Linked DNA regions of Homo sapiens: region 2 is linked to region 1. A link means that fine-mapping ties the variant in region 1 to the expression of a gene that starts in the linked region. Tissue or cell type: whole blood. Region 1 holds a variant in brackets; the other region holds the start of a gene. All regions are shown on one strand. Distances are between the middles of the regions.

The links. PIP is the estimated chance that this variant, and not a neighbour inherited with it, causes the effect.
Region 2: it holds the start of USP20, and the variant in region 1 is fine-mapped to the expression of USP20 in whole blood (INTERVAL, PIP above 0.99).

What each region holds. Positions count from the first base shown.
Region 1 is chr9:129,861,850-129,864,604 of GRCh38, reverse strand. USP20 (ubiquitin specific peptidase 20) reads right to left here. Exons shown (of 26, transcript NM_001110303.4): 9 at 1,306-1,419. Among named protein-coding and RNA genes, the nearest start is that of MIR6855, 6.4 kb to the left of the region's middle. RefSeq lists an enhancer at 1,220-1,389. The variant T/AAT (reference allele first, on the strand shown) is at 1,240.
Region 2 is chr9:129,834,257-129,837,011 of GRCh38, reverse strand. It overlaps USP20 (ubiquitin specific peptidase 20), which reads right to left and starts at 1,554. Exons shown (of 26, transcript NM_001110303.4): 1 at 1,513-1,554. C9orf78 (chromosome 9 open reading frame 78) reads left to right here and starts at 1,737. Exons shown (of 9, transcript NM_016520.3): 1 at 1,737-1,873; 2 at 2,246-2,305. The coding sequence starts at 1,791. RefSeq lists an enhancer at 804-1,304 and silencers at 1,276-1,425, 1,456-1,805.

The DNA.
Region 1 (2,755 bases):
ACGGGGTTTCACCACATTGGCCAGGCTGGTCTCGAACTCCTGACCTTGCGATCCACCCGCCTCGGCCTCCCAAAGTACTGGGATTACAGGAGTGAGCCACTGCACACAGACTTTTTTTTTTTTTTTTTTTTTTTTGAGACAGGGTCTCACTCTGTCGCCCAGGCTGAAGTGCAATGGCATGATCAAGCTCACTGCAGCCTGCCTCAACTTCCTGGACTCAAGCGATCCTCCCACCTCAGCCTCCTGAGTAGCTGGGACCACAAGTGCTCACACCACACTCAGCTAATTTTGTAGTTTTTGTAGAGGCGGGGTCTTGCTGTGTTGTCCAGGCCGGTCTCAAACTCCTAGGCTCAAATGATTCTCCTGCCTCGGCCTCCCAAAGTGCTGGATTTACAGGTGTCAGTGACTGCATCTGGCCCCACGCTGGTTTTTAATCTGCTTCTACATTTAATACATATTTCTCCCATGCTGGTTTGTTTTGTTTTTGTTTTTTTTTTTTTGAGACAGAGTCTCGCTTTGTCAACAGGCTGGAGTGCAGTGGTGCGATCTCGGCTCACTGCCACCTCCGCCTCCCAGGTTCAAGTGATTCTCCTGCCTCAGCCTCCCGAGTAGCTGGGACTACAGGCACACGCCACCACACCCAGCTAATTTTTGTATTTTTATTAGACACGGGGTTTCACCATGTTGGCCAGAACGGTCTCGATCTCTTGACCTCGTGATCCACCTGCCTCAGCCTCTCAAAGTGCAGGGATTACAGGCGTGAGCCACTGCGCCTGGCCCTACGCTGGTTTTTCATCCGCTTCTACACATAATACATATTTCTATGTGCTCATTTAAAATTATTCCCAACTTTGACTTTTCCTGGAGAAACAGATCTAATCACAGACTCTGATCTTTAAATTAATTTCATACTGTGCCAGAAGCTCCATCCAGTCTGTGCTCCCCTGCCCCACACCTCCTTCTACACACACAGTCCTGGCTGAGGCCGGGTCACCATGTCTCTTGGCAAAGACATCTACCAGTGGCTGCTCGGTAGGGTCAACAGTAGGTCAAATTCTAGCTCACTTTTTGCAGGTTCTATGACCTTGAGCAAGATACTTAAAGTGCTCTGCACCTCAGTTTCCCTATTTGTAAAACAGGACTGGATGCAATTTCCACCCCGCAGGCTTGCTGCAAGCATTACCCGGGACAAAGTGAGGCAAGTCCTCGCTGGGGGCTGAATCCACAGGAAGTACTCAA[T/AAT]CATGGGTGCTGACAGGAAACCCCAGTCCCCACACACCGCCCAAGGCTAGGGATGCAGCTGCTCACCGTTTCTTATGCCAGACCTCAGAGACCAGCTTCTGGTAGCTCTTGCACAGGGCTGGCTTCTTATCTGTGCGCACCAGGCCGCCACACTCCAAGAAGAACTGAGTCAGCGGCGGGCTGGGTGCAGGGGAGAGAGAGCCAGGTCAGGAGAGCAAATGAGGCATGCGGCAGTTTAGAAAGGGCTGCATAGCGGGGAGCCCTGAGTGCTCGCACAGGGAGCACAGTGGCCCTGGACCCAGAAACTCCTGAAGGTGACTAGAAGGCTCCTACCAGTTATGAGAAAATTGTATCCTCCAAAATTCATCTGCGAAGCCCTAACTCCCAGAGACAGGGCATTTTTATTTTATCTCATCTTATCTATCTTACCTTATTTTTTTATTATTATTATTATTATTTTGAAACAGAGTCTCCCTCTGTTGCCCAGGCTGGAGTCCAGTGGTGCAATCTTGGTTCATTGCAACCTCTGCCTCCCGGGTTCAAGTGCTTCTCCTGCCTTAGCCTCCCGAGTAGCTGGGATTACAGGCACATGCCACAATGCCTGGCTAATTTTTTTGTATTTTTAGTAGAGACAGGCTCTACTAGTTGGCCAGGCTGGTCTTGAACTCCTGACCTCAGGCGATCCACTTGCCTTGACCTCCCAAAGTGCTGGGATTACAGGCGTAAGCCACGGTGCCCAGCCAAGACAGGGCCTTTAAAGAGGTTATTAAAGTTAAAACGGATTGGGTGCGGTCAATTTTTCTTTTTTTTTTTGAGACGGAGTCTCGCTCTGTCACCCAGGCTGGAATGCAATGGCATGATCTCAGCTCACTGCAACCTCCGCCTCCCGGGTTCAAGCGATTCTCCTGCCTCAGCCTCCCCAGTAGCTGGGACTACAGGTGCGTGCCACCACGTCCAGCTAGTTTTTTGTATTTTTAGTAGAGACAGGGTTTCACCATGTTAGCCAGAATGGTCTCTATCTCCTGACCTGGTGATCCATCTGCCTCGGCCTACCAAAGTGCTGGGATTACAGGCGTGGGCTACTGCGCCCAGCCTGGGTGTGGTCAATTATTAACAATAATTGACCTGCATCCTGCCACCTGAGGATAGTTACTAGGAACATTTTGGGACATAGCCTTCCAGACTTTTCTACGCATTTGTACCCATTCCCTCTCTGCTTCCCGCATACATATACTGCATCTCTAACCTCCACTGGGTAGGAGAAGCACGTCAGACACAGGAGACATCCTTGGCCTCATGGAGCTCACAGCCTTATCCTTAATGGAAAATCGCATTTCTCCCATAAAACGGGATTGTACCATGCAATGCTTTATAACCTCCTTTTTCCCCCACTCACCAGATTCTGAACCCCTTCTTGTTTCAATGCATGTTGTCTTGTGCCATTTTTCCTGCACTTGCTGCAAGGGCTATGAGAATTTATACTCTCTTGCAGATGGGCCTTTAAATCATTTCCAGT
Region 2 (2,755 bases), 28 kb after region 1:
GAGGAGGGTCCAGAAATGCCCCTGGCCTTCTTGCCCTTTCCTTAGTAGTGTCCAGTACCCCCTGGTGGATGGGCTGCTTGATGGGCAGATTCAGAGCCACCTCTGAGAGCGTGAGAGCTGCAGACGTTGACCCCCTGGACTCCTGCAGCAATTCCCAAGGAGCCTCTCCATCATCTGACAGGGACTCCGTATCCAGTGAGTGCACGTGCATCTGGGTTTGGCTGAACCAGTCTGCAGAGGGCAAGACTTTGAGACTTTAATATATGGCTTTTGACCAAAGATAAAACGCTGGTGCAAGAAGTCCCGAGTCTACTATTTTTTCCAGCCCAAGGAAGAGAAGAACAATCTCAGTGGAGACTGTTCCAGAGAAAACGTAAGGCATTCTAGAAATGCTGCCCTGCTTCGGAATGGTCTTCCAGAAAGGGGAACCCCAGACAGCCCCCATCGGCCCCTCCCCCTAGCCAATGAGATGTAACAGCAGCTGCAGCAGCAGCAAACATCTACTGCACTCCTACCGTGCCAGGCCCTGTGCAAACCGTGCGGCAGAGACTGACCTGCAACCAATTCCTGTTCCACCTCCTAGCTGGGTAACTTGAGGCGTGCACTGCCCCTCGGAGACTCCGCATTCTCATTTGTAAAACGAAAAACAATCTACCTCAAAGGATTGCTGGGAGAATTCAATGAGATGATGCTTTGCCCAGGGCCTGCCACATAGTAACTGCTTAATAAGAGGTAGTTCTCAAAGTAAGGGATGACACTGAGAAAAGGAAAACTACTGTTACTTAAGGGGTTCTTAAAAGTCCTAGAAGCCATTATTTATGCATTTAGGTATTTCCTAAGCGTTTGCTGATACCAGTTTTTCAAATAAACTTTATCCTCACAGCATCTTCGGGGTGGAAGGGGCAGAGGGTAGAGCGACAGACCTGCCGAAGGAGGAAAACCAGACCCGTGAAGGTCCAGGGGGGTGGCCGGCAAGCACCGAGGAGGAGTCCCCCGGCTCAAACCCTCTTGCGTGGCTTCAAAACATCAGACGCGCCTCTCCTCGCGGAGAAGCTGGGGGCCATTATTTGTGAGGCAGTCGGCGCTGGGACTCTAAGTCAGCACCGCAGAGAAGTGGTCATCTTTTGTTCCGAAAGAAAAAAACGCACGTCAGGGCTCAGAGCCCGAGGAAAGAAAAGTCAGCGCCCGAGACGCGAGACGCCACGCGGATGCTTTCAACGCTAGGTCAGGCCCCGGCAGAAATGAGAGGGGGGCGGCCCCGGTTCTGGAGAAGCCACGAGCCCCCAGGGAGCTCAGAGTGGGGTGGTGCTGGGGCCCAGAGGCCCCCCTGGGCGCCGACCGGAGGAGGGGAGAGGGGCGGCGGCGGCCGGGGGGGTCCCGGGCTCCGCTCACCGGGCCGCTGCGTCTGGCGTACCTGGCGAAGCCAGGCCCTGTCAGCCCGGAGCCGGGCTGGGGTCGCCAATGCTCAGAGGCCCGGCCCACAGAAGCAGCCGGTGGCGGCCCGGAACTCACCTGCACTCGCAACTGCGCCGCCGCCGCCTGTCAGTCAAGCGCGCCCCCTCTGAGGCGACGCGCAGGGTTGTGGGGCCGTCTGGCGACGCCCCACCTCCTTCCCTCTGCCGTCCAATCGGAAGAGGCTGACGCCAGGAGAGGGGGCGTGGCCACGCGGACTGTGCGTGCCGGGGGCGGGGCCAGACGGGGCAGGCGCTCTGACCGCTCTGCCGCGCGCCGGAAGCAGCCTGGGCCGCTGCGCAGAGGCGCGGCGGCTGTACAACTCGGCCGTTGTCACCATGCCGGTCGTCCGGAAGATTTTCCGTCGCCGCCGGGGCGACTCGGAGTCAGAGGAAGATGAGCAGGACTCAGAGGAGGTTCGGTGCGTTTGGGGCGGGGCTCCCATAGGCTTGGTAAAGATAGACTTGTTTGGGGGACTCACCACCGGCTCGGCGCTTCGCTGACATTGTTAACTGTGAGCTCGGGTGGTGGTTCCTTCTGCGGACGCAGAAATTGAGGCTCAAGGGGTGAGGCCACCGCCCCAAGCTCGAACGGTTGAGAGAGATGCCTCCGGGATGCGCAGTGGCTCTGACTCCCGGTGGGTCTAGGCACAAGGTCGTCCTCTGGACCACTGTGCTGGTGGCTCAGTAGCTGGGCTGGGATGCCCTCGAAGGTGCCTTATTGGCTCTGTTAGCTTTGGATTCCGCGGGGAATCACTCAGCTTATGCATTGCTGCTTCTTCTTCTTTTTAAAGATTAAAACTGGAAGAGACCAGAGAGGTACAGAACTTGAGGAAGAGGCCCAACGGGGTGAGGTGGGTACCACGCGGGGAGGAGGAGGAGGCGGCGGGGACGACAGACACATCCGCGTCCGGGTCGCTGTCACAAATATCTCCTCAGACGTAGATTTTTCTCTTGACACACTGTACACCTTCCACTGCCCAACTTGGAGAACAGCGTTCTTTGCAAATGTTTAACCAGGACATGCCCTGAGCTGTGTCGTCTCGGGGTGTGCTCCAGAGATACAGAAACAGATCACTAACTCGCGTTTTTTATTAAAACCAATTAATTGTGAAATGCATATCGATCGTTAAGAGTTTGTATAATTTAGAAAAGTATAGTCAAGACGATAAAAAGCACCCATAATTCTCCCATCCGGAAATGATCAGTGTTAACATTTTTTTTCCTTGCAGAGCCACCCAAGAATGCACTGGTATTAATATTGAATACTCTTTCCAATCTGTTTTTTTTCGTCTCTCTCTCTC